7 separate regions of the Homo sapiens genome follow, and regions 1, 2, 3, 4, 6 and 7 are each reported to be linked to region 5. The links are microRNA targets in miRTarBase. Many come from high-throughput screens and were not tested one by one. Region 5 holds a microRNA gene; each other region holds the end of a gene's coding sequence. Distances are from middle to middle.
What was found. Region 5 holds the annotated microRNA hsa-miR-302f (UAAUUGCUUCCAUGUUU, at 1,863-1,879, opposite strand). A microRNA usually pairs through its seed, bases 2 to 8, with sites in the 3' UTR of a target mRNA and lowers its output. Matches are read on the target gene's strand: a 7mer-m8 pairs with bases 2 to 8, a 7mer-A1 pairs with bases 2 to 7 and ends in A, and an 8mer does both.

Region 1: the mRNA of LAX1 is a reported target of hsa-miR-302f. The part of its 3' UTR that is shown has no 7-base or 8-base seed match.
Region 2: miRTarBase lists PLLP as a target of hsa-miR-302f. The part of its 3' UTR that is shown has no 7-base or 8-base seed match.
Region 3: miRTarBase lists ARL8B as a target of hsa-miR-302f. The part of its 3' UTR that is shown has no 7-base or 8-base seed match.
Region 4: the mRNA of ZNF585B is a reported target of hsa-miR-302f. Seed matches in the 3' UTR shown: 7mer-m8 at 2,757-2,763 and 7mer-m8 at 2,006-2,012.
Region 6: the mRNA of EMILIN2 is a reported target of hsa-miR-302f. Seed matches in the 3' UTR shown: 7mer-m8 at 3,261-3,267.
Region 7: miRTarBase lists ACAP2 as a target of hsa-miR-302f. Seed matches in the 3' UTR shown: 7mer-m8 at 2,495-2,501.

Annotation. Positions count from the first base shown.
Region 1 is chr1:203,773,630-203,778,244 of GRCh38, reverse strand. It overlaps LAX1 (lymphocyte transmembrane adaptor 1), which reads right to left. Exons shown (of 5, transcript NM_017773.4): 5 at 1,873-4,370. The coding sequence ends at 3,564. Among named protein-coding and RNA genes, the nearest start is that of LAX1, 11 kb to the right of the region's middle.
Region 2 is chr16:57,253,120-57,257,625 of GRCh38, reverse strand. PLLP (plasmolipin) reads left to right here. Exons shown (of 4, transcript NM_015993.3): 4 at 597-1,529. The coding sequence ends at 713. It overlaps ARL2BP (ARF like GTPase 2 binding protein), which reads right to left. Exons shown (of 6, transcript NM_012106.4): 6 at 3,991-4,506. Among named protein-coding and RNA genes, the nearest start is that of ARL2BP, 10 kb to the right of the region's middle.
Region 3 is chr3:5,178,002-5,182,616 of GRCh38, forward strand. It overlaps ARL8B (ARF like GTPase 8B), which reads left to right. Exons shown (of 7, transcript NM_018184.3): 7 at 663-2,910. The coding sequence ends at 712. Among named protein-coding and RNA genes, the nearest start is that of EDEM1, 7.4 kb to the right of the region's middle. RefSeq lists an enhancer at 4,092-4,141.
Region 4 is chr19:37,181,508-37,186,122 of GRCh38, forward strand. It overlaps ZNF585B (zinc finger protein 585B), which reads right to left. Exons shown (of 5, transcript NM_152279.4): 5 at 72-4,615. The coding sequence ends at 3,720. Among named protein-coding and RNA genes, the nearest start is that of ZNF585A, 11 kb to the left of the region's middle.
Region 5 is chr18:30,296,200-30,300,814 of GRCh38, reverse strand. MIR302F (microRNA 302f) reads right to left here and starts at 1,905; the gene lies at 1,855-1,905.
Region 6 is chr18:2,912,363-2,916,977 of GRCh38, forward strand. EMILIN2 (elastin microfibril interfacer 2) reads left to right here. Exons shown (of 8, transcript NM_032048.3): 8 at 705-3,641. The coding sequence ends at 1,042. Among named protein-coding and RNA genes, the nearest start is that of LPIN2-AS2, 52 kb to the right of the region's middle.
Region 7 is chr3:195,275,498-195,280,112 of GRCh38, forward strand. ACAP2 (ArfGAP with coiled-coil, ankyrin repeat and PH domains 2) reads right to left here. Exons shown (of 23, transcript NM_012287.6): 23 at 1-3,931. The coding sequence ends at 3,831. Among named protein-coding and RNA genes, the nearest start is that of XXYLT1, 6.6 kb to the left of the region's middle.

The DNA of each region.
Region 1 (4,615 bases), not on the chromosome of region 5:
AGGGAACTTAGCAAACCTCTGTATTTTGTACTAAACAGTATCCTGAATGAAGACACAATCAATATAATGTAGGTTTGGGTAATTAATTCATTTTATTTAACTAATTAAGGAATCAAAATGGGTTAGTTATCTTTGTTTGTTTGAGGCAGAGTCTTGCTATCACCCAGGCTGGAATGCAGAGGCAAGAATATGGCTCACTGCAGCCTCAACCTCTTGGGCTCAAGTGATCCTCCCACCTCAGCCTCCCGAGTAGCTGGAACTACAGGCAGGCACCACCATGTCTAGCTAATTTTTGTATTTTTTGTAGAGATGGGTTTTACCATGTTGCCCAGGCTGGTCTTGAACCCCTGGGCTGAAGTCATCTGCCTGCCGTGGCCTCCCACAGAGCTGGGATTATAGGCGTGAGCCACTGTACCTGGCCTTGGTTATCTTTATATCTACTTTTTCATCCTATCCTAATCTTGAAAAAATTTCCTCATATTTAGCATCATCGAGTGTATGAGATAAGACAATTAGTCAACATTTCCTGGCAACTAATGTGAGAAAACAAAACCATAAATGGAAAGAAAAAAATTAACATTCAATAAAAAATTTTTCATTGATTCATTTGCAAAAATTTCTTAAAACAAGAAATAAACAGAAAAGTTACGTATCTAAATATGAGACAATCTACAGTGCATTAATCATTCTTGATTTGGGAGAGTATGTAAGTGTGACTGGCTGATTGAGGTATCCAGCTTGTTGGTGTGTAAACAAGCAAGAGCTGCCTTAAGGCCCAGTGTGGTGGCTCACGCCTGTAATTCCAGCACTTTGGGAGGCCACAGCAGGTGGATCACCTGAGGTCAGAAGTTCGAGACCAGCCTAACCAACATGGTGAAACCCCATCTCTACTAAAAATACAAAATTACCATGGTAGCAGGCGCCTGTAATCTCAGCTACTTGGGAGGCGAAGGCAGGAGAATTGCTTGAACTTGGGAGGTGGAGGTTGCAGTGAGCCAAGATCATGCCATTGCACTCCAGCCTGGGTGACAAGACCAAAGCTCCATCTCAAAAAATAAAAAAGAGCTGGCTTAGTTTATTCCAGGACCTGCCCCCAACTGATACGTTGTCCCTCCCACCCTTACTGGGTGACAGATGTCTTCATAACTTCTAATTTAGATCTCATAACTTTTCATCCCCTCTTAGTTATGAGAATTCTGTCATGCCAATGTTTAAGATTTTGTTCAGTCCATTTAAGCTTCATTCTCACATATGATACAAACTTCTCCTTACTTGACTATGGGATTGTCCTTTCGATGCGCTTGCTGCTGCCCTGGCTAACCCTGCATGGTCATCAGTACCAGACTGTCATGGTTCCCTCTGTGTGGCATGAATTTAAATGCTGGCCACTTGGTGGAGTGATGGTCTGTTTTCACTCACGACACTTCTGACACCAGATGTGTGGATTTTCTCCCCCCAACAGCTGACCAATTTTCCAGCTTTCTGGACACCAGTTGGGTGCCCTGCAATTCAATTCTTACACTAACCTGTCTCTCCTTATCTACAATAGATTGACTTATTTAACCCAAATATACATATAAAGTCGTTTTAGAATTGCTAAGCCATGCCTCTGTGAGATACAAATTTACCAACCAGAGTGCAGTTTTTGTATACAGTTCTTTGTGTCCTTATCTACAGTTATAAGTCAAAACATTGTTTTCCAACTTTGTCAGTTCTTTTTTCCCCATCCCTTTCAGTGAGTTGATATCATACATTTATAATACAATTAGATTCATTTGCCACAATTTGCATACCATCCTGGGTTCCCTTGACAGTCTGTTCATTTTTAAAAAATTTGCATACAATAAAAGCCCCTTTGTCTAGTGTACAGTTTTTTTTTTTTTTTTTTTTTTTTGAGACAGAGTCTTTCTCTGTTGCCCAGGCTGGAATGCAGTCCGCCTTCCTGGTTCAAGTGATTCTCCTGCCTCAGCCTCCTAGTAGCTGGGACTACAGGCGCACACCACCATGCCAAGCTAATTTTTGTAGTTTTACAAATATGAGAGACAGGGTTTACAAATTACAAATTAGAGACAGGTTTACAAATGTTAGAGACAGTAGAGACAGGGTTTCACCATGTTGTCCAGGACAGTCTTGATCTCCTGACCTTGTGTTCCCCTGCCTCGGCCCCGCAAAGTGCTGGGATTACGGGTGTGAGCCACCGCGCCTGGCCATGTGTATAGTTCTTGTGTTTGCAAATGGATATTGTCATGTATCCACCACACAGTACCATACAGAACAGCTCCATCAGCCTATTCCCTTTGCAGCCCCTTTGTAGCAAACTTCCCTCCTTTTCTCAAACCTGACAACAACTGATCTGTTCTTCATCCCTATAGTTTTGCCTTTTCCAGAATGTCATATAAATAGAATCGCCCAACATGTAGACTTTTAGGCCTAGCTTCTTTCACTTAGCAAAATGGATTTAAGATATGTCTATATTATTGTGTGAACCAAGAGTTCATTTTTTACTGTTGAGTATGGATAAACTCAAGGAATGGATATCAACAGCTTATCCAATCACCTGTTGAAGGATATCTGGGTTATTTCTAGTTTTTGGTAATTATGAATGAAGCTGCTATAAACAGTCATGTGCGAGTTTTTGTGTGAACATAAGTTTTCAGTTCACTTGCGTCAATTTCTAGTAGTGAAATGGCTGGGCCATATGATAAGTTATGCTTATAAGAAACTGCTGAAAAGTTTTTCAAAGCTGCCCTGACGCTTTGCAATCCCATCAGCCACCAGTGAGAGTTCCTGTTCTTCTTCATCCTTACCTACATTTGGTTGCCCACACTTCTTTTTTGTTTGTTTTTTTTTTTGAGAGGGAGTCTCGCTCTGTCACCAGGCTGGAGTACAGTGGCACAATCTCGGCTTGCTGCAACCTCCACCTCCCGGGTTCAAGCGATTCTCCTGCTTCAGCCTCCTGAGTAGCTGGGATTACAGGGGCACACCACCACGCCTGGCTAATTTTTGTATTTTTAGTAAAGATGGGTCATGTTGGCCAGGCTGGTCTAGAACTCCTGGCACCAAGTGATCTGCCCTCCTCGGCCTACCAAAATGCTGGGATTACAGGCATGAGCCACTGCACCTGGCCTGCCTACACTCTTTAAAATGGAAATTGCCCACCCCACTCCACTCCAACTTCTTCCTTCCTTTTGACCTCTGACTGGATTATACAATAATCTATACTCTTGCTTTGCAGCCTGTTGGTATTAATGAAGGTAATAATCTTAGACTACTGTGCACTACTTTCCTGCTTTCTTCACAGTTCTAGGAAGCAGTTTCAGCAAACATTCTTAGGCTGGTACAGGAGATAACCACACTCTGCTTGAGAAGAATTCCCTTCTGGAATTCCCAAACCTCTGCTTTTGTGTGGCCTCTTAGTTCACTGCTCATCTCAGCCTCTTTTTAATCTAACCAGTGAATCCACTGAAGCACTAAGGTGATCACGGGTCTGCACTAGACTCTGCAGTAGTCAATCCTATGGGATAGACTACTCAATGTGGCTTTATGGCTGGGTACCTGGGTCTTCATTCATCAGGAAGGAGCTGAGTGCCAGGCCCCTGCTCAGAGTCCCTGCCTCCTAACTTGGCAGTTAGCACATTTTCATAGTCACTGGAGTCCTCATTTGACATCTCTTCTCTATGTTTCATCTGACTGTCCTCACTCTGTGTGAATGGCTGAAAGTCTGCATAATCCCCTGAAGCAAGGAATGTCCTTTTGACACATTGGACATGGGTCCCGGGATCATCTGTCTTGTCCTCGACATGACCTATGTTTGAGGATGGCACATCTTTCTCAGCCTGCTGCTGGCTTCCACTGGGATCTGCTGCTGGAACATTTTCATAGTCTCTGCAGCACTGAAAAGCCACCCAGAGCTGCCTTTCCTGGATGGCACTGAGATCCAACCCTGTCATGTTGACATAGTCATTTGAGATCTGAGAAGAACCTTCTCCATTGCTGAGTGAATCACTGTCCTCAGCTCCTGGAGAATACAAACTGGTGCAGTCACCAGCATCTCCACAGCCCTCATCTCTTTCCTCAGTAAACTCCAGCTTCTGGGTACTGGGAAGAACAAAGAGATTTCTGGAAGGGCTTTTGGTAGAAGCTAGAGTCTCAGCAATCTCTTCTGCTGTGGGGACATTGACATAATCATGCGAATCCTCTGAAGAAATGCTTGCGCAGTCTCTGGAAGCTCTGACATTGATGCAGTGTGCCGAGGGAGTGAGGTTCCCACACATCTGGGGGACCATGGCGTTGTCATAGATACCCACCGCGTACTCTGTGGCATGGATGTGGGCTGTATGCTCCTGGAAGGCATTGCCTGCTTGGGAGGGCTATGAAGAAGAAAAGGAAGCCAGTGGTCAGATGCAAGCAGAAATATGGACAAAGCCTTTCTTCTTGGAAAATACCACTGGCATATTCTGAAAAAAAAAAAAAAAAAAAAAAAAAAAAGAAGAGCAACAGTGCAAATGTGATGATAAATCACAACTAGTTTTTGGCCACAGTATGGGAATCAATTGGTGGGGGGGTGCGGGTGGGACGAAAATATTATCAACTGAAGAGCCCACTGAGAGGCAGT
Region 2 (4,506 bases), not on the chromosome of region 5:
CTGCGACACCCACAGTGAGGGAGAGGAAGGGACTACCAGTTCCTTTTGACAGACAGGAGGCTCCTGCTCAGAGAAGTTGGACGCCAGGCCTGGAGCCACGGCCAAGCCCAGGGGAGGGCAGGGCCTCAATGGGCACGCATTTGGTTCCTTACTCTTCCTGATGAGGGCAGTTTTGAAATCAGCAAATTCAGTGATGGGGACAGAGACGGGGAGCTTCTGAATGTGGCTGCAGGTGTTAGTATAGAGGCTTGAACTGGTTCTAGGAGATTCCTAGGGTGTCCTTTGAATGTTGTCTTTTTAGAACTAAATCCTTGCTAGGTGTCCCCTCTGTCACTCTTATCTTCTCCTTCATTGCCCTTATCACAATCTGACAGGCCCTGCCTGTGGTTCTTAGCTGTTTCCCATGGTTAGAAGGTAATGTTGGTATCCCAGGACCCTGGTGCTCATCAGCCCCATGATAAACAGCTGTGAAATGCATCTGGCTAAGTGTGAGATGGTGCGGCTGCCACAACCCCTCCTGCCTGGCCTGAGATCTGGTTGGAGCTTGTGTCACTGTCACCCTCTCGGTCCTTAAGCCCTTCTCACCTCTCTTTCAGTTCTTTGCGTGTTTGGTGATGATCGCCTATGGAGTGAGTGCCTTCTTCAGCTACCAGGCCTGGCGAGGAGTAGGCAGCAATGCGGCCACCAGTCAGATGGCTGGCGGCTATGCCTAAACCACCTGTGCCACGGCCCCCTCTGGGGCTGAAGCCGCCGCTGGGTCACAGAGCAGGGTCACCCTGCAAGCCTGAAGCTGGGGAGCCCTGCGTGGAGTCAGCCCAACAGGGACTGCATTTGCTCCTCTCTGCCCGTCAGACATAAGCTCTCACAGCGCTAAGGAAGCAGGCCCAGGCTGGCAGGCATCTCGGCTTGCAGGAGGCCAACTGCTGAGACCTCTTCTCCATCCCCCTTATTCAGTGGAAGATGACGGGGGATCTGAGGCTGTGTCTCTGCCTTGTCTTTAGAGGACTTCAGCGTCCAAGACTGGGGCCCACCCTTCTCACCAGCACTAAATGCACTAACAAGGACTCCAGACCTGCAGCCCCAGACCCGCCGTAGTATAAGCCTAACAAGCAACACGTAGCACCTTAGTCTTTGTTCCAGGAGAGCTGAGCAAGCTGGTGAAACCACTCTCCTTCCTTTAAACACCGTTTCAACCAACCTCTCCCTGGAGCCAACCTGTAAAAAGTGGGTTGATTGCTGACAGCATGGTCTTCCCTCCCTGCATTTCAGACATACCAGTTACTGAAAGCAAATCAGTTTTAAGTGATTTCTCAGTGCTGAAAAGCCTGTCCAGGTTTCCTTCCCTTTCCCAAGCCTCTCTCTGTAATACTCCCTTTGGGCGAAGCTAACATCGGTGCCTCCCCGACCTTGCTGACTAGGCACATGGGACGCAAAGGAGGGAGGGAAGCAAGGCCTTGCCTGGCGAGTTGTCATGTGGTTGGTGGTGACTGTTTTATTTTTTTTAATAAAAATAAAGATGAGAGAAATTATTTGGACAAGATGTTGGCAAATCACTTTTACAGGTGCTTGTAACCTCCAGGAGACCTCAGCTTGACTGTAGAAGATGCCTGCTGTAGGGCAGTTCACGTTCTGGAGTCGTTCAGCACCACCTGCGAACTCTTTGACCGGAGGAAGGCTGCCTATACTTCCTGCTTGCTGGGTCTGGAACAGTCCTGGTTTATGCTGTTTGTGCTGGCATAAATAGAATAGCACGGCCTTTTATTCTCACAAGTGACTCAGTTTGACAATAACTTAGTCACCCTTGCTTTGGGCAGGTTAGGTGAGCTTACTGAATCAAAGATTTCAACAATATCATCTACCTTGAAAGTCTGTGAAGCTTGGAGGTCATATAATCAAGGTGGCTGGCCATGCTGCCTGCTCAGAGCTGGTAGAGACAGCAGAGGAAAGCAGCTGAGTACTCCTGAGCTTATTTTTCCAACACCACAGAACAACGTTCTCTGAACAATAAGGTAAAAGCATTTCTAGGTACCCTCTGTACCCTTTTGTTATTTTTTATTTTTATTTTTTGGAGACCGAGTCTTGCTCTAGTGCCCAGGCTGGAGTGCAATGGCGCAATCTTGGCTCACTGCAATCTCCGCCTTCTGGGTTCAAGCAATTCTCCTGCCTCAGCCTCCTGAGTAGCTGAGACTACAGGTGAGCGCCACCACGCCCAGCTGATTTTTTGTATTTTTAGTAGAGATGGGGTTTCACCATGTTAGCCAGGATGGTCTTGATCTCCTGACTTCATGATCCGCCTGCCTTAGCCTCCCAAAGTGCTGGGATTACAGGTGTGAGCCACCACACCTGGCCGATTTTTTTTTTTTTTAAGAGACAGGGTCTTGCTCTCTTGCCCAGGTTGGAGTACAGTGCCACAACTACAGCTCACTGCAGCCTTGACTGCCCAGGCTCAAGCAATCCTCCCACCTCAGCTTCCTCAGTAGCTTGGACTACAAGTGCAGGCCACCATGCCCAGCTAATTTTTGTTTTTTTTTTTTTTTGAGATGGAGTCTCACTTTGTCACCCAGGCTGGACTGCAGTGGCGTGATCTCGGCTCACTGCAACCTCTGCCTCCCAGATTCAAGCGATTCTCCTGCCTCAGCCTCCCGAGTAACGGACTACAGGTGCGTGCCACCATGCCTGGCTAATGTTTTGTATTTTTAGTAGAGACGGGGTTTCACCGTGTTAGCCAGGATGGTCTCGATCTCCTGACCTCGTGATCCGCCCGTCTCGGCCTCCCAAAGTGCTGGGATTACCAGCGTGAGCCACTGTGCCCGGCTGATTTTTAAATTTTTTGTAGACATTGGGTCTCGCTATATTGCTTAGGCTGGTCTTAAACTCCCAGCTTCAAGTGATCCTCCCATCTCAGCCTCCCAAAGCGCTGAGATTATCGGCATGAACCACCACACTTGGCCCTGGTATAAATATTAATAGCATCACTTTTTACTCTAAAGTCTCGGAGTTTGAATAATAAATTAGTCCTTCCAGGAGTAAGTTATAAGAGTTTGGTTTTAAGGAAGGGCAATACACTTAAATGTAAAACAAAATCCCAGGCAAGTTAGAGAGCTCACCCCTCTTATGTTTCCAACATGAATCAAAAGCCTGTTTCAGGGGGGACATTAAAGGCATTCAGTCAATGCTAAGGCTCAGCAGTTTGTGTGACTACTGCTTCCCACTGGGGAGGAGTCCTAAGCAAGAGGACTGGGGCTTCCTCACCCCAGGGCAGGTGGGAGCCCCATCAAAGGTGGCACCTGACATCACAGTCTAAGTGTCTGAGGATGGAGAGACAGGCTGCTAGTTTATTTTAAAAGAAATCAGAATGTCTACTTATAATATTAAGTGACAACAGACTTGCCTCCTTTTTGCTGAGCAGAAAGGGTGAAAAAACCAGCCAGGCATGGTGGCTCACACCTGTGATCCCAGCACTTTGGGAGGTGGGTGATCACCTGAAGTCAGGAGTTCAAGACCAGCCTGACCAACATGGTGAAACCCTGTCTCTACTAAAAATACAAAAATTAGCTGGGCGTGTTTGTGGACACCTATAATCCCGGCTGCTTGGGAGGCTGAGGCAGCAGAATCACTGGAACTCGGGAGGTGGAGGTTGCAGTGTGCCGAGATCGTGCCATTGCACTCCAGCCTGGGCAACAAAAGCAAAACTCCATTCCCAAAAAAAAAAGAAAAAAAAAAGGGTGAAAAACCAATTTGCCTTTATCATCGTTTTTTCATCATTTAATCTCTGGACTTGTCCACTGGCCTTTTCTCAAGTAGGCAGGCTGGTCCACAGGTCTTAGCAAGTGCTCCCAGCATGCCTGGGCTGTGGTGGACCTCCCATTTATAGACAAAGCAAGGGAAAGCAAGCCCAGGAGAGGTGGCATTTAAAAAAAAAAAAAAAAGACCAAAGCAATAATTAATAACCTTATGGCAGTGGCTACATTAAAGAAAGAATACAACTCATTGAGAATGGTGGTTCTTGCGAAACACCTGAAGTTTTACTCATGGTACAAAAGTATTTAATAAGTGACACATCAGTACAGAAACACAGAGCTTGTAGCTTGTCCTTTAAAACCAGAATGGCCAAGTGAAAAGTCAGTACAGATTCTTATTTTTACTATTAAAAAAAAAAAATCAAAGGGACACACTGGGAATTGAACTACTATGCTTTTTCTTCGTTCTAGAGATGACATATATGTTTTCTGATAAGTAATCTACCACACATTGCACTAAACCAAAGCATACAAACAGCCAGTAAAGCTGTGCTCTACCTGCTACTCATGCTGGGCTGGACAGTGGAACACCATCTTGGTAGGAGAGATTTTGACAGGAAGAAACTGCAGAGTCCCTACCTAACCCAGAGAACCTTACAAACTGGTTTATACACAAAGGATTTTCAGCAAACATGCAAACACACTAACATGCTATAGGAATATGTTTTAGTCTATTTCTAGCACACAGCATACATTCATAGGTGCC
Region 3 (4,615 bases), not on the chromosome of region 5:
TCATCTTTCAGGCTTGGAGAATAGAGTGGTGCTTCTGATAGACTCTCATGTACCCTTCTGAAGAAGTGAGGACAAGAATTACCCAGCCCCAGATGTCAAAAGGGCATGGTGTGAACCCTGCACCAGCCTTGGCAGTGACAGCCTCCTCTCCCATCCCTGTGCTTTAGTCACATTGTATCACTCACAATCCATCCAGAGCTCCACAATGTTTCATGCCTTTTAACATTCTTTTGCTGTTTTTTTTTTTTAACCTGGAGTTCTGTGGGGTGGCCCCCAAGCCCCGGGAATTACTGCATCTTTTCTGTGTATTATACTTAAAAGCGCCTTGAGGGCAAACAGGGGTTATTCCTTTTTTTTTTTTTTTTTTTTTGCCTTCCTGGCAATTTGCATGCAACACCTGATTGATTGTGTGGGCAACACATAAAAGGTGGCACCAGCCGTCCTATACACAACTTAATTTTTAAATCAGAAAACGCTTCAGTCTCTGATAATTCCTCATATTCTCTTGAAGTTCGGGTAATGGAGTATGGTAATGCAGATGCAGAAAAGCAGCAGAGGTCAGGCATAGTGTGTGCCTTGAATTAGCTGCCTTTTAAATATTGTCTCTGTTTGATGTTTAGTTTTTTAACTTTAATGTCTTCACTTTTCCCCTCTATCTTTAGATATCACACTTCAGTGGCTTATTCAGCATTCAAAATCTAGAAGAAGCTGAAGCATCTCCTGAAGTCTTCCAGTCCTTCTTGGCTATAATCCTAGAATTATTGTCCGTTCCTCTGAAGTAATTCCCAGAATACGGTCCTTCCTAAACCCCAGAAATTGCCTTTTTCAGAGTTTATTTCTCATGTGCACTGCTGAAGATGAATATCCCTAATCCTTCATAAAGAATCAGCTAGAGTTGTCATGATAAAGTCAGCACACACAAAAAGGCTTCTTACACATACCTGTCTTAAACCATGTGTAGAGCTTTAAAAACAGAAAAAAAACCCCATATACTTATGACCATCTTAAATCAAGAAAATTGCATATTTCCATTCTGGTCTTTCTGGGCCAGATTTTTATATTGGTTTTCAGTAAATGTCTATCTATAATATTTCATTATAGAGTCCAGTAGCTTAATACTGACACTGACTTGATACAGCATGAAGTTTCTAGTGCCACACACAGTATTTAGAAAACCTTTAGGCGTGAATGACTCATGTGGGATATATGTAAACATAATGTTTATTTTATCTCACAAATGCATGTGAAATGTATAATTACATCTTAGGAATCCAAAATGGTCTGCAGAGAGTGAGCGGAGGCACCAGATCAATGTTGGTTCTTTGCACTGGTGAGATTCTGCCTGATGAATATTAAAGATATCCTGCTTTCTGAGAACTCTATCACCAGATGGCAGTTGGGATATGGGAGGAACTAAAGCATCCTGTTTTGTATCTGTCCAGATCATTATTTCTGTCTCTTGTTTTTTCTTCCTGGTTCAGGATACTTTTTTAAGGGGTTGAGAATTGAAGATTTTCCAAAAGCGTTCATGAATTTAGAGCATTCCACCCAATATAATAAAACCTGTTAAGAATGTCAGTCTTTGTTCAAACATCTGTTTGTTCTATCTCCAGTCATTAAATCAGTGCTGCTGCATGACACTCTTAACTCCTGACTTTTTATATCCAGTCATAAAGTTGACTTTCAGCACAAAAGATACTTATAAACAAATAAAAAATTTTTATTTTTCTCTCTTACTGATGTAAGCTTTGGCACTCTTTTGACTGGTGCCATTAGACATCTTGATTATTGTGACAACTCTAGACCTGCCTGCTTTATCTAATGTAATCATGCTCAATGTCTACAGGTTGTTTAATAATCAGTCACACAGAGAACTGAGGAACTGATGCTGTTTGTTTGCTTCTATGATACAGAGATGTCTAAAAACTTCAAATGGACATGTTTTGTAGTTTAGCGACTTCCGTATACATAAAGGGACATATTAATACTGGTTCATTTGTAAATTATTATTCATATAGACCACTGTAGTAGATAAAACTCTATGGTACACCTGCTTATGTGTTGCCTCACACTGTGTGTGATTTTGTTTCTTTTGTTAAGCAGCACTTATGTAGACTGCATTTCCAAATGTGTTGAGCACTCAGAGTGTAGTCAACAGTAAGTTCTTTTAATGAATATCAGTTTTAATTTATAGACTGCCATGGCCTTAAAAATATTCTGTACAATATACTGCACTGTGTTGCACAGACACTACTTGCTTTTCTCCATTCATATTTTTATGAGTAGAATCTGGGCTTTTAAATTTCTCTTCTTATTCTTTGAAGCATGTTGCATACTACCCTGGTGGGATGGATGGTTCTGTAAATGAAGGGATATTTAAACTTGCTACTGTTGTTCAACACCATTAATGGTCAGTGTGAACCATTACAAAGAATGTGGCAACTTGCTTGTGCCTAAAAGGAGGAATTGGAACTAGAATGTGTGACTCTGTGGGGACTGCATAGGTTTGTTAATTGACCTATAGCTAAACCTTAATGTGTTTGTGTGTCTATACATTGCTTTCCGCATTTCAAGACATCCAGACGCTATTACCAACATTTTCCTGTGCATTAACCTCTGCATGTGAAAACTTTTAACAGTTACTGAACTATGTAAATATGTGAATTTTTTTATTTAGGTGGATGCATTTTTTGTCTGTTTACTGCTCTTCTCAGCTTTATTCAATAAACTTGCATTTTAAGGGTTGTATTGGCAATTTTAACTTAAAATGTGCATCATGATGGAAGGTGCAGACTTTTTTGGAAGTTTCCGAGAGGAGGGTCTATAGACCATTTGTCAGAAATCAGATCAGCCCTCAAAGAATGGGGTCTGTGGGCTAGTTAAAATAGAAATAAACTTTTAAAATATCCACAGAATTGATATTGTGATTTTTTGGGGGCGGGGGAAATGCTACTACTTGTCAACGGTCACAATACACCAAATTTAGGACTTTAAGTGGCAAGTGCTAGTAAAACATTTTATGTCCCAGTTTTTACAAATCAAACCAAGACCCTGCTAAGCAAATGAAGTTGCAAGACATGCCTATTCACTGACTTCAGTTCAGAATGGAAATATTTTAAGTACCGAACATGCTGGTTTTCCCACAAAGGCACATTTTTAGCATAAAGCTTTTTGCTAGTTTGGTATCATCTGCCCATAAAATAAGTCAATACTTGAGCTATTGGAAAAATAATTGTGTATATTTTTATTTGTTTAGAAAGGTTCAGTTAGCATTTTCTCCATACGCATACTACAATTCTGTACAGCCAACCCTTAGTGGCCAGTTGGATGCATGATTTCGCGTTTATTTCCCTGGAACGTCACGTTGATGTGTTTTTGTCTTTTCACTGCATTACTGGAGCCATGTAGTCAAGCATCAAGTTTCATCCACTTCTCACCATTCTCCTACCAAGGGGGTGAGTGTGTGAGAGTTGAGGGTGAGGATGGGGGAACACGGAGGATATACATTTAGCTTAATTCTAAATGTGTATCTGCTTTTAAAAACTTCTAAACTTATAAAGTTGGTCTTTGATTCTGTCAAGTAAATTGGGTGTTTGAGGAACTAACTGCTTTGTCTGTTTGCTCCATGTAGGATTGAGTTACACTGATACCCTGTTGATTTGGTAATTCCAGCTGCTCCAAGGGTCTGGTGGGTTCAGAACTGGAATGGAAGCTTAAACATAATGTAGTGGGCATCATGCTGTAACATCCAGTTGGCCAAATGCTTTACTCTAAAAATGTGCCACAGTGGGGAAAGCACGATGTTTGATGTTTAAAATGTTTTTGTTATGTTACAGACTTTTAAGGTTATGCCCTCAACTGTGCATAGCAGTGAAGAGACTTGAAAAGGAAGACAGTAAAGCCTTACAGACTTCCCTTAAGTTTGCTGCTCTATAAGTATGCAGCCTGCTGCAGGTGTTTCCTGTTGGTTAGTAAATAACCTCCACACATTGGCTGTTTAAAATTCAGCTATTAATAAAAATGTGTACTTTTGTCATTGCTCCTCTTGGGTGTTCTTAGGGAAACCAAAGCAGGTCATTGTCATGGTAGACAGACTGCAATAGGACTCTCTTAAAAATCTAAGCCACAGCAGTAGTCATTTATTATTCCATTCTATTAACCAGCCCTCTCTTCAGTAAGATAATTCTATTTTGAAATCCCAAGGCATCTGGCATTTAGGTAATGCAGATTTCCCAATAATCAGGAGGGGGAAAAGATACTTTAGCTTCATTTTACTGGGGCTTACAGTAGGGATGTAGGAAAAGAGTTGTTAGCTTACGATGCTAATATAGCTTAATTCTGTGGAGAGTACTGGGTTGGCATTTGGGAGAATGGGTTCTTTCCTTGGCCATTAACTGACTGTGTGACTGGTGAGTTGCAGAACCCCCTCATGGCTCCTTAAGTTTTCCCATCTATAAAATGAACAGGAGAGGATTTCTAACCATAACTTCTGCCACTGACAGGCTGATTCTAGCAGCCTAGAAATTTGCTTGGTGGTTAAAAAGAGATACAAAAACACCGATTTGGCCTAGTGAATATGTTAATATTACATGTTCCTTCAATAGAAGGTAATTCA
Region 4 (4,615 bases), not on the chromosome of region 5:
TGTAAATTATACCTCAATAAATACGACCTTAAAATATTACAGTCATGTTCACACAAAAACCTGCACACAGGTGTTTATAGCATCTTTATTCATAATCAACAAAACTTGGAAGCAATTAAGGTGTCCTTCAGTAGGTGAATGGATAAATAAGTCATGGTACTTCCAGACAATAGCATATTATTCAATGAGAAAAAAAAAAAAAAAAGAGCTAGCAAGCTACGAAAAGACATGGAAGAAACTTAAATCCACATTACTAAGTGAAACAAATCAATCTGAAAAGGCTGCATACTTTATGGTTCAGAGGCAAAATTATGGAGACAAAAGAAAATAGCCAGGAGTTTAGAGGAGTAGGCGAAACACAGAGGATTATTGGGACAGTGAAACGGCTCTTTATCCTTCTGTAATAATGCATACATGTCATTATTCATTTGTCTCAACCCACAGAATGCACATCAAGACTGAACCCTAATTAAACCATGGACTTTGGCCGATAGTGTCAATGTAGTTTCATCAATTGTAACAAATGTACCACTCTGAAGGGGGATGTTGATGATGGGGGAGGCTGTGTATATGTGAGGGTAGGGGATATATGGGAAATCTCTGTACCTTCTGCCCCATTTTGCTGTGAACCTAAAATTTCTCTAAAAACTAGTCTTTTATATAAATGGGCATACATATACATATATATGTCAGCACTAAAATATCACGTTACAATAAATATAAAGGAGAAATTATTGAAAGTCATGTACAGTGAAATGTGTTTTCCTCCATATTTCCTGGAATTCATGAGGAGTGATACACTTAGGAGTAAGGTAAAATGGGAATAATGAAGGGGACCAGACCTTGTTCTAGGGTATGTTAGGAAGGAAGAGGTGATCTCCAGGCACCCTCCTGAGAGTCAGCTGACATTGTCCTAAGTTGGGGATAATGTTGTATCACAAAATATCCAAAACTGAAGGAAGAATAGTGAAGCTTCAGATACAGTGCTGGATGAGGTGAAGGGAGGTAATGGGTGAGCAGACATTGGTCTAAGATGTTGAGCAGCATGTGATGGGCCATCAGATACTGTGAAGAAGTGAGGAAGCAGAGCTAATGATGGCTCAGTAGACATTGATCTAAGGTGAGGTAATGGGATGTGTCACCAAGCACTGCCCAACTAGGGCTTGGGAATTAAAGGGGCATTGTGGCCCTGCTTCTTTGACTATGTTCTATCCTTTGGGCCCCATCTTCACCTCCCCATACTGCCCTTCTTAAAGGTGAAACCATCTTTGCAGAGCCCAAATAGTTCCCACTCCCAGAACTGCCAATAGACTGGCCCCAGACGCCACCCAGCAACTGTGCATCTAATCAGATCATCTGTCAGCATCTGTAAGGCCACTGCTGCCTATCTAGGGCAAGATACCTAATATCCAATGAAGATCCACCCAAGTCTGCTCTAGTTCCCTGCTATTGGCTTCAGGCACTCCTCTCGGGGCAGGATGAGCAGGTGTGTGGATTGGGTTCTGGAGTAAATGCGGCTCTGTCGAGTTGCAACTGAGACAGGACAGCGCTGTGCATGCTGAGGAAAAATGAGCAGGGAGTCTTTTGCAATCATGTTGGAGCTGTGGGATTCTGGAATCATGGCAGGAAATCCTGGAAGCAAGCATCCACATGGGATTTCCTGTACCTGTTTTCCCTTCTTTAGCATCAGACCAAAAGGTTCACAATGACTTTTTAGCTTTAGGGTTGAGAAGGGATACAGCCCAGGTACAGACTAGAGGTGAAAAAGCCTGGTGTGTTTTAGCCAAGTTGGTTCTCCCTATTAGCGCTTCTTATGCTGCAACACAGAAAAAAATCAGACAGAAGTCACGCAACAAGCATGGGTCAACTCTCCACAGGTGCATTTATGGAATGCCTGCTGTATGGCAGTCATGGGTCTAGACTCATAGTGGTGAACAAAAGGGAAATATTTTCTAGTGTAGAAGCCACAGAGAAATGAGGAAAATACACCAGGCAGCATGGTGGAAATTGCTAGGGAGAAGAATAAAGGAGGAAGGGTAAGGGGCTGGAATTTTAAACCAGGCAGGCAGGGAAGGCCTGTGTGGAGGTGTCATGGAAAAAAAGACATGACGGACAAGCCACAGATAAAATAAAGAATTGTGCTCTTTGCAACGGGCACTGCAAATACAAAGGCCCTGAGTCAGGAACTGATGTTTGAGGCACATGGCGGGGAAGGTCCTTGTGGGGTGCGTGGGACGAAGATGGACACAAGTAGACAGTGAACATATGGTGGGGTTGGTTTTCATATGAGTTATCAATTTCATATGATTTATGATTTATCTCATATCTCATATAATGTAAGATAATGATTTCATGACTTATCAACTTATGAAAGTCAGATCATTAAGGAAAGTAAAATGCTGGGCTTCAACTCAGTCACAAGTAAATTAAAAAAAAAAAAGAGGCAGGCAACTGAGTGAGAAGAATTGTAATAGCAGAAGGAAGAATTTAAGTTCTCCCAGATGACCTGAAAATCCTAACCTCAAAGGCTTTCTTGAGGGTGGTGGGAGTGTACAAAACACTGTGCTGGGCCGGGCGCAGTGGCTCACGTCCGTAATCCCAGGACTTTGGGAGGCCGAGGCGGGCGGATCATGAGGTCAGGAGTTCGAGACCAGCCTGGCCAGCATGGTGAAACCCCCGTTTCTACTAAACATACAAAAATTAGCTGGGCGTGGTGGCACACGCAATCCCAGCTACTCAGGAGGCTGAGGCAGGAGAATTGCTTGAGCCCGGGAGACGGAGGTTGCAGTGAGCCAAGATAGCGCCACTGCACTCTAGCTTGCCCGACAGAGCAAGACTCTGTCTCAAAAAAAGAAAGAAAGAAAGAAAGAAAGAAAGAAAGAAAGAAAGAAAGAAAGAAAGAAAGAAAGAGAAAGAAAGAAAAAGAAAGAAAGAAGGAAAGAAAGAAAGAAAGAAAGAAAGAAAGAAAGAAAGAAAGAAAGAAAGAAAGAAAGAAAGAGAAAGAAAGAAAGAAAAAGAAAAAACACTGTGCTGGGTGTCAAACACAATGTGCTGAGAACCTGTGGGGCTCAGAGAGAGTCCTGGCAGATAATGAAGGGGACTGTAAGTCTTTTTCTATGACAATGGGGACTCAACATACGCTCTGAGGTCTGTGTCTGAATACACAGGGAGTTTGTCTTATTGCAGTATCTCTTGCTTGATAGAAATACTCAATGGGGAATTGGATATGCACAACTGTGTTCGATTCAAAAGAAGAAAATACCCACAATTCTACTAGACAGTGTGTTCTGGAACAAACAACTCACAGAAGGATTCATCACTATCATATATATTATGTTGTCTTACCATTCAAACTGTTGGCACTATACCTAATCCACAGTAAACAGGATTATCATTCCCATAATATGATCTTTCTTATGAAGAATTTGGTAACAGTATTCTATTGTAGTTTTCATGAGAAGGCTTTTCCTATTCACCAAATTGACTCGGTTCCTTGTCAGTATGAATAATGACCCAAGGTTTACTGGGGATGGTGACAATGTAGGAAGGGTCCCTCGCCTCATTCAGTGCCTTCTCAGAGGCCCTCTCCAGAACAGCCATGTGTGACATTCTGATGTGGTCATTTCTATTTACAATAATATACATATTTTTCTGCTGCATGCGTGCAACAGTGTACAATCAGACCCAACCCTCAGGGGGGTTTTCTCACACTGTTTCTCTCAAGCGTGGCTGCTCTGATGAACACTGAACACTGATTTCTGAACGAAGCCTTTCCCACAGATGCCACACTTGTAGGGTTTGTCTCCAGTGTGTGTTGTCTGATGTTTATTCAAATTGGACCTGTTGCTAAAGGCCTTCCCACACTCAGCACACACGTAAGGCTTCTCTCCAGTGTGAATTCGCTGATGCACTTGGAGCTGTGATTTTTTAGTGAAAGACTTCCCACAGTCACTGCACTCATAAGGTTTCTCTCCAGTATGAATTCTGTGATGTGTAATCAACTCTGACTTCTGTCGAAAGGTCTTCCCACATTCAGAACAAATGTAGGGCTTTTCTCCGGTATGAGTTTTCTGGTGCTTACTGAGATTTGACCTGCCACTAAAGGCTTTCCCACACTCGGCACACACATAGGGTTTCTCTCCTGTGTGAACTGGCTGATGCACCAGGAGCTGAGACTTGGAGGTAAAGGACTTCCCACAGTCACTGCATTCATAAGGCTTCTCTCCAGTATGAATTCTTTGATGAGTAATAAAGTTTGACTTGCGGATGAAAGCTCTTCCACACTCAGTGCATACATAGGGTTTCTCTCCTGTATGAATTTTCTGATGAACAATGAGTATTGATTTCTGGTTGAAGGCTTTCCCACATTCGTGGCATTCATACTGTCTCTCTCCAGTGTGAATTTTCTGATGTATATTAAGATTTGACTTCTGAGTAAAGGCTTTTCCACAAGTATTGCATTCATAAGGCTTCTCCCCAGTATGGATTCTCTGATGTGTAATCAAGTCTGACCTCTGGGTGAAGGCCTTTCCACATTTGGAACATATATAAGATTTCTCTCCTGTATGAGTTTTCTGATGTGTAATGAGATTTGACCGGTTGGTGAATGCCTTCC
Region 5 (4,615 bases):
ATGAAATATTTTCTTTCTGACAGAAGAATGTGCAGGAAAATGAAGATGGATTGCTGAGCAGAATTTAGGGCCCAGTAAGAATGGAGACCTGGATATTTAGTGGCACCAATTCATAAATATCCAGAAAGCCTGAGCCACACTGGAACATAAGATAGTAAAAGTGGCATTTGAGATTTAGCAAACTCTTCATCTCAATTCCCAACCCAGAGAATATACAACTTGCATTTCTGAATCCTTCAAGGTTGCATTGTTCTAGGCAAGAAACACCTACCATTTACGACCTCTTGTTCAGAACTGAAAGATGCCAGAGCTGCTGTTTTTGTTGCTGTTGTTACAGAGAACACAATGCAAAGGAATGATTTTGAAGGTTCGAGAGCATTGAAGGTTAAGGTTGTGGAAGGGGAAGCAAAGAGAAGTTAAGATGAAGATATTGCGGGAAAAGAGGGATTAATACACTGTCTTATATCTTGGGCAGAAATTTGAAACTTAAAGGTTTAATTGCTTCAAAATTTCTATTCCTCCTGGTGGATGAGTGTTTAGTGGCAGTCTATCAGTGCTTAGGGAGTCTTAGACAGGAACCCTTAACAGAAGGAAAACATTTATGTATTAATTTTCACTCTTTTCTCAATAAAATAACAAAAAGTAAAATTATGTATGCTCAAGAATCATCAGTATATAAATACAAGAAAATATTCCAAAATAACACCAGGGTATATCTCTGGTTAACGAAATTATAGGAATATTTAATTTTCTTCCAAATGCTTTTTCTAATTTTTAAATGTTTAAAATCACAATTATTAAACACCTTTTCTATTTTAAATATGCCTATAATTCTTCCATTGTAGTTATTATTTAAGGCAAATAATTATCTTGGCCTTGGCGTCAACAGTTAAAATGCAACTCCCCTTAGAACAATCATCATTATATGCTTTAAATATAACAAAAGTTGGTTTATTAAATTACATTTTCTTTGGTAGGAACAAAGTAAGGCAGTGATTTCGAAAATTTTTAAGGCTATTAAATAAAATATAGTGGGGCTACTAGGAATAAACAATGTATTTTCACATCAACAAAAATTACTTATCCTTTGACTGTACAGAAAAGTAATATAAAATAAAAAGAAACAAATACGACCTGCAGGCAACACTCTTAACTGATTTATACCACTTTGGCAATCCCTAATCTCCCTGCTTCAGATCAGCTTTTAGCATTAATACTGTGACACCTAATAGCTGAGCATCCTATCAACGCAAAAAGTGCAACTTTAACTAGGTGTTTCTGATACGTGGCAAAGTCACTGATTTAATTAGAATCATTCCTTTAAATTTCAAAAGTTCACTGTTACAGTATTTTCACAAATGCCTCTAAAATTAAGTGAATGTTTTTGAGTTAAATTTTATCTCATTGATGATTGGTGGCCATGTTACATCATACCATTCCATCTTTCAGTATAAATAAGATAAATCTAGAGAAAATAGAAATGACCTTTGCATCTGATTAAAGTATATTTTGTATCTGGTATTTTAAAATAGGATCATTTAAAGTTTTCTATGGCAAGTTGATTTGAGAAACATTCATTTCAAGAGCCAAAGGGAAGCCTACTAATGCATTTATCTAAAACTAACAATCATAATTAGCTTAAGTTATGCAATGCCCTCAATAAATAAGTGACGGTTTTAAGCCAAGTCATATTTTTGCTACTATTTTGCTAAATATTTGTGGAATAAAATGATTTGAATCATTTGCAAGTTATATAAGCCATTAGTGATTATGGCCCAAGGTATCAACGGAAAGTTATTTAAGTAATTTCCAAGGCCTGTTCCACAGTAGACCAGATGTTAATCATCTTTTATGTCTTTTATAAACATGGAAGCAATTAAGTGAAAATTGCCAGGTTTACACAGAAGACATTATCATTGACAATTATAGTATTAGAGAATAACTAGTGATTTAAGTTTTATTGAAGAATACAAACTTCATACCATATTACAATGGCCCTTTTGTAAACTATAAAACAAAGCAAATTAAGTAAATAAACACAGGAGATTTCCAGAAATATTCATGGGAAGGGAAAGAAAACATTTGCAGTACAGCAGTGAATAAAACACAGTCTCCCTTAGAAATAGTCAAAAAAATACATGTGAATGTGATTAATCTTAAAAATAGTGAGTTAAGGGAGAGTGTGATTTTTATGATGGTCCAGTCTTTTGATTCTGAGAGAGGTACCATACTAAAACTGAGGCTAATCTATTGCTTAAAAGAACCAAATGTGTCTCTGCCAGGTTTTGATATCAGGATAATGCTGGCCTCATAAAATGAGTTAGGGAGGATCCCCTCTTTTTCTATTGTTTGAAATAGATTCAGAAGGAATGGTACCAGCTCCTCTTTGTACCTCTGGTAGAATTTGGCTGTGAATCCTTCTGGTGCTGGGCTTTTTTGGTTGGTAGGCTATTAATTACTGCCTCAATTACAGAACTTGTTATTAGTCTATTCAGGGATTTGACTTCTTCCTGGTTTAGTCTTGGAAGGGTTTATGTGTTCAGGAATGTGTCCATTTCTTATAGATTTTCTAGTTTATTTGCATAGAAGTGTTTACAGTATTCTCTGATGGTAGTGTGTATTTCTGTGGGATCAGTGGTGATATGCCCTTTATCATTTTTTATTGTGTCTATTTGATTATTCTCTCTTTTCTTCTTCATTGGTCTGGCTAGTGGTCTATCTAGTTTGTTAATCTTTAAAAAAAAAACAGCTCCTGGATTCATTGATTTTTTTAAGGGTTTTTCATGTCTCCATCTCCTTCAGTTCAGCTCCAATCTTAGTTATTTGTTGTCTTCTGCTAGCTTTTGAATTTGTTTGCTCTTGCTTCTCTAGTTCTTTTAATTGCGATGTTAGAGTGTCGATTTTAGATCTTTCCCACTTTCTCCTGTGGGAATTTAGAAGCCAGTATTATCTTGATATGAAAACCTGGCAGACAAAAAAATGAAAAATTCATGCCAATGTCCCTGATGAACATTGATGCAAAAATCCTCAATAAAATACTGGCAAACCAAATCCACCAGCATATCAAAAAGCTTATCCACCATAATCAAGTAGGCTTTATCCGTGGGATTCAAGGCTGGTTCAACATATGCAAATCAATAAATGTAATCCATCACATAAACAGAACCAATGACAAAAACCAAATGGTTATCTCAATAGATGCAGAAAAGGCCTTCGATAAAATTCAACACCCCATCATGCTAAAACCTCTCAAAAAACTAGGCATTGATGGAACATATCCCAAAATAATAACAACTATTTATGACAAACCCACAGCCAATATCATACTGAATGGGCAAAATGGGCTTTCAAAACTGGCACAAGACAAGGATGCCCTCTCTCACCATTCGTATTCAAGATAGTATTGGAAGTTCTGGCCAGGACAATCAGTAAAGAGAAAGAAATAAAGGGTATTCAAATAGGAAAAGAGGAAGTCAAATTGTCTCTGTTTGCAGATGACATTATTGTGTATTTAGAATACTCCATTATCTCAGCCCAAAACCTCCATAAGCAACTTCAGCAAAGTCTCAGGATTCAAAATCAATGTGCAAAAATCACAAGCATTCTTATACACTAATTATAGACAAACAGAGAGCCAAACCATGAGGGGACTCATTCACAATTGCTACAAAGAGAATAAAATACCTAGGAATACAATTTACAAGGGACGTGAAGGAACTATTCAAGGACAACTGCAAACCACTGCTCAAGGAAATAAGAGAGGACACAAACAAAGGGATAAACATTCCATGCTCATGGATAGGGAAAATCAATATCATGAAAATGGCCATACTACACAAAGTAATTTATAGATTCAATGTTATCCCCATCAAGTTACCACTGACTTTCTTCACAGAATTAGAAAAAACTACTTTAAATTTCATATGGAACCAGAAAAGAGCCCGTAGAGCCAAGGTAATCCTAAGCAAAAAGAACAAAGCTGAAGTCATCACGCTACCTGACTTCAAACTCTACTACAAGGCTACAGTAACCGAAACAGCATGGTACTGGCACCAAAACAGATACATAGACCAATGGAACAGAACAGATGCCTCAGAAATAACGCCACACATCTGCAACCATGTGGTCTTTGACACACCTAACAAAAACAAGCAATAGGGAAAGGACTCCCTATTTACTAAAATGGTGTTGGGAAAACTGGCTAGTCATACGCAGAAAACTAAAACTGGATCCCTTCCTTACACCTTATATAAAAATTAACTCAAGATGGATTAAAGTCTTAAATGTAAGACCTAAAACAATTAAAACTCTGGAAGTAAACCTACGTAATACCATTCAGGACATAGGCATGGGCAACGACTTCATGACTAAAACACCAAAAGCATGACAACAAAAGCCAAAATTGACAAATGGGATCTTATTAAACTAAAGAGCCTCTGCACAGCAAAAAAACAAACAAACAAAACAACAACAACAAAAAACTATCAAATCAGAGTGAACAGGCAACCTACAGAATGGGAGAAAAATTTTGCAAGCTATCCATCTGACAAAGGGTTAATATCCAGAATCTACAAAGAACTTAAACACATTTACAAAACAAAACAAACAACCCCAT
Region 6 (4,615 bases), 27 Mb from region 5:
GGGCCCTCCGCTTTATGTCCACTCTTGGCTTGTTGTCAGCGGCAAGGTCCGATGTCTGCTGCGGAGCCCGTGAGTGATGGCCATTCCTGCCGGCATTTGGTGTTGGCACTGACTCTCCTAGCTGTGGGGCCACCTACAGCTGCTTCTGCTTAGCGAATTGTGACATGTACAGATCTTTCCACCTTCCTCACCTTTGGCCACCACTTCCTTTCCCACCCTGGGCCCAGAACGTGTGGGTCATGGGCTGAGTATCAGTGCTCACTTCTGGCCATTGCCCAGCATGGGGAGAATGGGCCTCTTCCACGAGGAGCCTGGCATGGCCCCTGGGGTTACAAGGTGCCATGTCTGCCTCTCCCTGGGTTGGTGGCAAGCTTCGTTTTTATTGGCCCTGCCTCCCGGGTATTCTGCCCAGCAGCCAAGCTTTGAGGCTGACTTTAGCCTTTAGGTGCTTCCAATAAGGAATGCCTCCAAGAGGCATTCTTAGGCCCATGGCAAAAAGTGGTATGGGCTAAGGTGGCCTCTGCATCACGGGTAGGCTGTAGGGGATGAGCATAAAAAGCAGCTGAGGCAGGCAGCCAGCTACCATGGGAAGACAGAGATGGCTGGTCTCCCAGGCCCAGGTTAATCACTGGGGGGCCACTTACTACCATGGCAAGGGCTGTGACGACAGCAGGTGAGCACAGGGTTTGCCTTTCTCCCCGCAGGGGTCTTCACGGCTCCTTATGATGGGCGCTACCTGATCACGGCCACCCTCACCCCCGAGAGAGACGCCTACGTGGAAGCAGTGCTGTCGGTCTCCAACGCCAGCGTGGCCCAGCTGCATACCGCTGGGTACAGGAGAGAGTTCCTGGAATACCACCGCCCTCCAGGAGCTTTGCATACCTGCGGGGGCCCGGGGGCATTCCACCTCATCGTGCACCTGAAGGCGGGAGATGCAGTCAACGTCGTGGTGACTGGGGGCAAGCTGGCTCACACAGACTTTGATGAAATGTACTCCACATTTAGTGGGGTTTTCTTATATCCTTTCCTTTCCCACCTCTAAGGTGGCTGGGGAGATGTCAGGGGAAAGATAGATAGTTGTAAAAACTCTAAAGCTTTAATATATTCGGTTTGTATGTAATGGAAGCACGGGGCTAGAGTTTCCACATAGGCCCCAACATAAAGGCCTTCCCTCGCTGTTGAGGCCACCATGCCTTACTGCATCCAGCCAGGCTGCAGGGAGTGAGGCACACGGTGAACATGGCCACTGACTTTTCTGCCACTCTAACTGGACAACTGGAAGACTTGGAAAGGCCTCCACCTGTATCTACACTCTGAGGGCCCTGGACTGGGCCTGAGCTTGCCACAGAGGCTCCGTCTGACTGTGGGCTGGGAGGAGGGAGGCAGGGGAGAGCCGGTCACGGTGGCTGGTCTTTACTGCAGGGCAGCACTGTGGCCAGCTGTCTGTCTTTACACTGCATGCAGAAGTTTAAACACTGAAGTGCCGAAGTGGCCCGTGCCGCCGCACAGAGACCCCGACTTTAGTTTGGGCTGTTCCACGCTTGGCTCACCATTGCCGCCTGGGACTTAACCTGCTCAGGCGGGCCTTCGCCCAGCTGCAAATAGGGATGCGTTAGAGACTGTTCCCAAAGCTTGTTGGGCTCCTTAAATGGCATGTACAATTTAAGTGCAAAGACAGGGAGTGTCAATAAAGATGGAAAGCCATTTCCAGTTAACTTTTGTTAATTTAAGTGTGGTCCCTTACAGATCGGGAGTTGTTGCTAAAAAGCAAACTGAAGAAATGTTTTGTTTCAAAAAGGGCTACAGAAAGTAACCTTGAGTAAAATTAATCTCAGCTACAAAACTGTTACCCCTCCGCATCCAAGCTATACACTTGGGTTTTGTTTCTGGCTTGTGAAGACGGACCAGATGTGCACGGAGGTCAAGGCCCCATGTCATCTGCAGCTGGAGCGGCTCCTCTGGGGATGCTGCACTCAGATCCCACAGCAGCTGCCCAGGCTAACTTGATCCCTGCTGCTTCACTGCACCAATCTCCAGCAGACACAGCTCGCCGAGCTCTTGGGTTTCTAAGCAGCAGGAAGCTCAACCTAACGCTGGCCACACGCTGACAGCTGAGCCCATCTGAGAACACGGCATCTTCACACAGCGAGACGCCTCCACTGAGGGGAGGCCCGGGAGTATCAATCTGTCACCAGTGGCCACGGAGACCTCTCAGCACCCTTAGTTCAAGGTAGTCTCTGTGGATCAGGTTGGTAACACCTACTGGTTAATCAAGTCCCACTGGGGAAAGGTTTGGACGGTAGAATCAAGAGCTGCAGTTTCCTTGGCCCACAAGATGCTCTTATGCTGTAAAAAAAATGCTTTAAGAATTGTTTGCAAATGAATTTACAGGGTGGCCACTGGACACTTCAGAGTTCCTTATTTACTCCCCCCGCCACAGCTAGGAAGACCAGCAAGAACTAAAGGTTTGCCGTTTTACTATTTAAAATGTGGACCTCTTTGTCCAGGAGCGGGAGGGAGAATGGCATCTCACCCCATTACAACAGCTGGGGAACTGGCTAAAGAGAGCTGTCAGAGAGTATCCTTGGCTGTCCTAGGAATGACTCATGGAAAGCGCCCCAGTGCAGCAGTGTTTTCAGGAAAACCCAGTGGGCACGCGCCATCGCCCTCTCCTCTCCTCTCACGCTCCTTTTGAAAAGACCGCACTCGGCGCCCAAGGGGACGTGCTCAAGAGCTGCAGGGGCAGGGCCCAGGCAAAAGGTGGGTGATGACTACCTGCTGCTTTCCCTACTCCGTAGATGGGTCTGGAACATCGGGTAAAACCCAGTCCTCCTCTCAGTGCATCTCTACTCACCAACAATGGTGAATCTCAGCTCTGTGTATTCAAGACAGGCAAAACAGAATATGCCTCATTATGGCTGGAGCGTGCCTCTACTTTGAGATAAAGCTGGATGACAGGTGGATCCTGGCCCACTTAGGAGACATCTTTAGAAAGGGAAAGGCTGTCTTTTTGTACAGGTAGTAGAACAACAAGGTCAGCTGAGCTTAAGGCTGTGGGGTTCGAAGCAGCCCTTCAAGAAGTCATCACCCCTGAAGTAGTGCCTGCGAGTCAGTCAGAGGCATACCAAACCCTGAGACAGAATCAGGCACAAGTTCACAACTTTTTTTTTTTTTTGGGGGGAGACAGTCCTACTCTGTCGCCCAGGCTGGAGTGCAGTAGCGCGATCTCAGCTCACTGCAACCTCCGCCTCCCGGGTTCAAGCAATTCTCCTACCTCAGCCTCCCGAGTAGCGGGGACTACAGGTGCATGCCGCCACGCCCGGTTAATTTTTTGTATTTTAGTAGAGATGGGGTTTCACCGTGTTGCCCAGGCTGGTCGCGAACTCCTGAGCTCAGCCAATCCGCCCACCTCGGCCTCCCAAAGTGCTGGGATTACAGGTATGAGCCACCACGCCCAGCCAAGTTCACAACTTCTGATATCAAGTTGTTGCTGAGAAAAGGTCAGGACACTTCTTAAGTAGAGAAGGACTGTGACATCCCCTCCAAACCTCCATGTAACACTAACAAATGGCCTCATTTACACGATTAAAAACAAAATGGTATCGTCAATAAATGCAAACCTTAAACTGCATTTGAAATTACTTCCTGGTTGGCATGTTAATCTAGCTTTCCCAGGTGACTAATTTTCTCACAGTTTATGTATTTGCAGCTTGACAGGGAGTATTTGTGATTGGAGTCACTTCGTTCATGCCTGTAAGCTTGGAAACCCAGCTTTGCACATATCCAATCCACACCACAGCCCCTTTCTAAAGATAAATGTGTATTTTCCTTATGCCATCCTATAAACGGGAAAGAAAATGGAAGGACACATGCCAACTCCAATGGGTGCGGGGCAAAACAGAGAGAAGCCACACGCAGGCACGTCCTCAGAGCTCAGGTATGCAAAGTTCACTGCTCCCCTGAAGCCCTCAAAGCTGCTCTGGGTAAAGACCATTTCCTTTGTAACCAATTTCCCTGAGCTCTTCTTTTGCATTCCCAAAGACCCATGGTTGCCATCACGTCATGCAAACAAACATTTCCATCCTGAACACACGCTCCTGTGGAGGGCCTTTGGGATGCAGGGTTCAGCATATGCTGCATCTGGTAAGGGCCCAGCAATCTGAGAGGACAAAACATCACCATGTAAGTAATATATGCGATGTGGTTTTGATCAAAGGTCACTCTGACTCTGTGATGAAAACATCAGGATTGACTGCTAAATCATACCCACCCTAAGGAAGGGTTTAAGGAAAGGTGGGGTGTCCAGGGGCTCTGGACAGGACTCCCAGGGAATTCAAGTGCTTAGGGAGAGGAGGTAAACACAGCCTCCTGGACAGCCGTGAGACCACAGCAGAAGTCACATATGGATGGGTCATTTCCTGGCAGAAGGTACAAAGCAAGAGGTTAGTTCCTGGGGGTGTAGCTGCACTTCTGAAGCCAGGTTTTAAGAATAAGCAACAAAAAGGAGCTCCTGCTGTAGACAAATTTAAGTGTCAGCAAAGATCAAGATGCTAATTTATGGAAATTACCAATTTCTGGCAAGAATCTAGAAAGATGGTTTCAATGTCCCCTGAAG
Region 7 (4,615 bases), not on the chromosome of region 5:
GGTTCTCCAGAATATTTGGAGTCTTTGTTATCAAAGCACAAGGAAAGCTGGCATTCATTATCAGACTTCGCTGCTTTACAATGATTTCAAATCATTTCATGATACAAATAAAGTGCCTCTGACTGGTGGTCAGTCAGACCTGGGTAATGGTGCCAATTCTGCCACCAGCTAGCAAATCAAGTGACCCTGCTCTGTAAAACAAAAGGAGCACCCTAGGATCAAAAAAGTAGACAACTTTGGAGCTTAGATTAAGATCTCAGAAATCCTACCATGAGAATCCAGTGAGATAAAGCAATGCCAAGTACACTGTAAGTAGCAAAACAGTATACAAAGGGATGCTTCTATATTTTCACCTTGTTTCATTACACTCATTTTAATTGTGAGGAGCCCTGAATCCAAAAAGGGTAGTGACGACTAGTCCAGTGCTCCTTCCACCGTATCATGCGGTTCTAAAGTCATTCTGGACATACAATCTACAAAAATACATCATTTTTCCAGCTCATGTCCATGATCCAAAGTGATATTATACACAAGTGTTATCTGACAATATAAGAATGATCTGGGAATGTCTGTTCAAAACGGTAGTAAATTTAGTCTTAAACACAATTTCATTTACTGCGACCATACTTAACATGCATAAAATATTTTTAAAATACAAACTTAAATTGGCCAGATTCTGAATGTGTACTTTTTTTCTTTTTCAAAATGCACTCATGAAGAACCAAAGTTCATATTCCAAATTAAATCTGTATGTCTGGAAAAGTAACCAATCAAAGTTCATTAAAATATACAGTGAAAACCGGTATAAATTAGGCAAACACCATAATCTAATGAATATCAGGAAATTTCTGAGTTTCTAAGGATTGTATTAAAGGTAACTTTTTAAAACCTTAGAAATCTTAAGCACATAAATGTTATAATGAAGCATTTGCAAATGACTGCTCAATTACTTTTATTCTAGCTCTAACATGAAATTGCATTTTATTAACTCTTCATAGTGCTGCTATTCTTATTTTGATATTAATCTAACTTTCAAGTTAGTAAGCTAATGATAATGAGCTAACAGATTAATAATAAGGAATAAGAAACTAATAATAGCAGATAAGTTATGGAAAGAAAATAAAAGGCCAATCACATTGACTAATGAAGCCCAAAAGCATGATTAACTAAGATTTCTTATAATGCACTGAATAATTCACAGCATAACATAATTCAGATTTGTTACATACCATATAAAAGCTATTAGTTGACATGGCTAAATTCACCTAAGAGCCAACCTACCTTGTAACTATTAATTTAATTTAAAGCCTTGCTGTTTACTCCATCATTTCTGCCAAATGTAGTCCAAATTGGGTCTCAGCATATTCAAGAAATCAAGCCACAGAAATGTGTACTTGTATTGCTAGGCTCCCTGCAATATTAAAGATTTTGCTTTCTCTGAAGATATTCTGAACCATGATCATCTTTAAGGCACTTCAAATACATTTCTGACCACTAAATTTAAGTAGATACTAATTAATTACTGCCATATTAACAATTCATCACGTAAGCCACAGGAGGCAAGAGTCTCATAAGGAATTGCCTTCACAACCACAGAGATTCCAGAGGTGATCTGAATGAAACACGCACCAATGGCCAGATCCAAAAGGAAAACTACCTAGACTTCCTCAGATAAAAGTCAGGATCTTTAGGAATTAAAACAGGAAGGGACACTATAAAGGAAAAGTGAGGTTTTTTCTTTTTCTTTAACGTACTTCTTTTCTTTGAGCTTCTTGGTCAAATAATTTCAAGGTACATGCTAATAAAAACTACAAATCAGATTTTTGCCTTTAGTGAAGGTGCCTAAAAAGCCAGATGATCTATGACTTTGAGGTGAAACAGCAAAGATAAAGATTTAATGTTCCTGTTATTGTTATAATTAAATACAATGCTGTGGAAGTTAGCATTTCCTCAGAAGTAATTCACAAATATATTTTTATCCTTATCTAACATACAGTGACCATTACTAAATAAGCATTACATGCATGCAGTTTGGCCAAATTATGGAACCTTTTCTGTAATGTGAACTTATTTCAATATAATTCCTGCTTGGCTAGATTCTGATTTGATGTTTAATCAACTTATAAAACCCTAGTGACTGGGAAATGTTAGAAAATTTATCTATAATTGGATCATAAAGTTTTTATATATTTTAAAACCTCTTATTTAGAAAGAGTATCAATAATATCATTTACATATAATTTCTAAAAGAAGAATAGACTTAATTGTTGACAACAATGGGAAGGAATCAAAAGGCAAATTAGGCTGGGTGCGGTGGCTCACGCCTGTAATCCCAGCACTCTGGGAGGCTAAAGCAGGCTGATCACCTGAGGTCAGGAGTTCGAGACCAACCTGGCCAAAATGGTGAAACCCGTCTTTACTAAAAATATAGAAATTAGCTCGGAATGGTGGCGGGTGCCTGTAGTCCCAGCTACTCGGGAGGCTGAGGCAGGAGAATTGCTTGAACCCAAGAGGAGGAGGCTGCAGTGAGCTGAGATCGTGCCACTGCACTCCAGCCTGGGTGACACAGCAAGACGCCATCTCGGGAAAAAAAAAAAAAAAAAGCAAATTAATTATTTTATACTTTAAGACATTTTCAAAGATGGAATCAGACTAATTTGTAGCATATAAATGGTAATGTTTATCCATAATATTTTGGAATTCAGGGGTCTGTGAATCATGTAACCGAATACTAAAGCTATATACACGATATAATTTAAAAGAATGTACACTGTGTACAAGTACACAAAATAGATGTAGAAAAAATAAACAGCAATTTATTGCTATATATTTTAGTATTAACTAAGAATAAGTGGGGTTCTTTTTCTCCTTTGTACAGAGATTTTTCTTTCACTAGGAGCAACAGCAAAACTATCTTTAAAAGGACAAATTTCAAATATAAAAATGGCCTACATGATTTTATAAATTGATTTTTCCTTTAAAGTTTTGATGAAGGCATAATTTTGTGACATTCAAGTAACCTTTAAAACATACTTTTATTCCATCGATACATCTGTCAAGGTTTTGGGGAATCAACCCAACAATGAAGAACTACACATTTTGAACTGGGGTTTTTTTTTGTGATTAAAAAAAAAAAAGAGCTTCTTTTTGCTGCATAAAATAAATCTAAAGGACTGAATTATGGTCTACCTGTACAGCCATTATACATACATACATTAAAGTACTGGACAATAACCTGTCACCTAAGAAGTATAACCGACCGCATTTATGAACAAACGGGGAAAACACATTCTCTAGTTCTAATAAATCATATATTATGTGTATGAAAGCTAGGTTACCAAAAACACATCAACACACACACCTATTTCTGAACCACCAAAAAGCCTCAGGGAAGCTAAAGAAAACACATATTCTTGAGGCAGGCAGGACAGTTGGCTTCCACTTGATGAAGACATGCTTGACTGAGTGATCCTGGGCAAGATGCATGGAGGAAAAAAATCAATGCCACCACCCATTGGCAAAAGAATCACTTTTGTCTAACCTCCTATCATCTTGTAACCTAGAGATGGCCTAAATCTAGACTGAACTTCTGTCTACAGAAATAGCCCTTTAAATAGGCTTTTTTAATAAAAGAGGTCCTAAACTAGGTTCCTCTCCTACTACTAGATAACTATGTTTTAATTTATAAATATATGAATGGGTACCTCTTTTCCAAGCCATTCAATATCTACCAAAATTAAGTAGAATTAAAGCAGTAAAAAAATTGTGATTTTTTAGCTGTATACATTAGGGGGTCACCAGATTTCATATTTTCCCATTTTTAAAAAAATTCAGAATTTCTGTGAATCTTGCTGGAAACGATTTAGTTTCTCTGGATTATTGGATGCCATTTGGGAAAAATCACGAAATATGTCCTGATAAGTTTCATCACCTGCATGAAATAAAATAAAGACACTTTAAACATTTACACAAGTATTAATCAAACAACATTCATATTTATTACTAGTACTATTTTATAATTCATTACATTAAAATTTTGTTCAGATGAGCATTTTTGGAAGAAAAGGGGCAACTAAAAATAAATGCTGAAAAATTATGCAATGAAAGAAAAAAAAAAACTATACCTGAAAAAAGCACCTCAGATGCAGCCACAGAAGAAAGCTCAGAGTTAGAAAAGAGCAAAGATGCAAGTGTTTTAAAGCAATGTAAAGAAATACGTTTATTAACACACGGGGGGGAAAAGTCATTCTAAATGAGGTGGAGTAAATGAGACCTTCTTTAAATAAATATTTCCCTTGATAAAGGCCAAAAGAAATGACTAAAACCAAATACTAATGTTTTGGATGGATGCAAGTTATTAACAAGACAAACTGATAATCAAGACAAACTGATAATCAGATAGGGAAAAATAATACTATCTTTTAATTAAAAGCAATTTGAAAAAGTAATTTTTTACTCAAACTTTAATGCGTAATTAAAACTAATGCACCTAATCCACTGCTTCCTAAACTCATAAAATAAAAATCTAGCTGGGTGCAGTGCCTCACGCCTATAACCCCAACACTTTGGGAAGCTGGGTGGGGGGGTTGGGGGGAGAATTGGTTGAGGCCAGGAG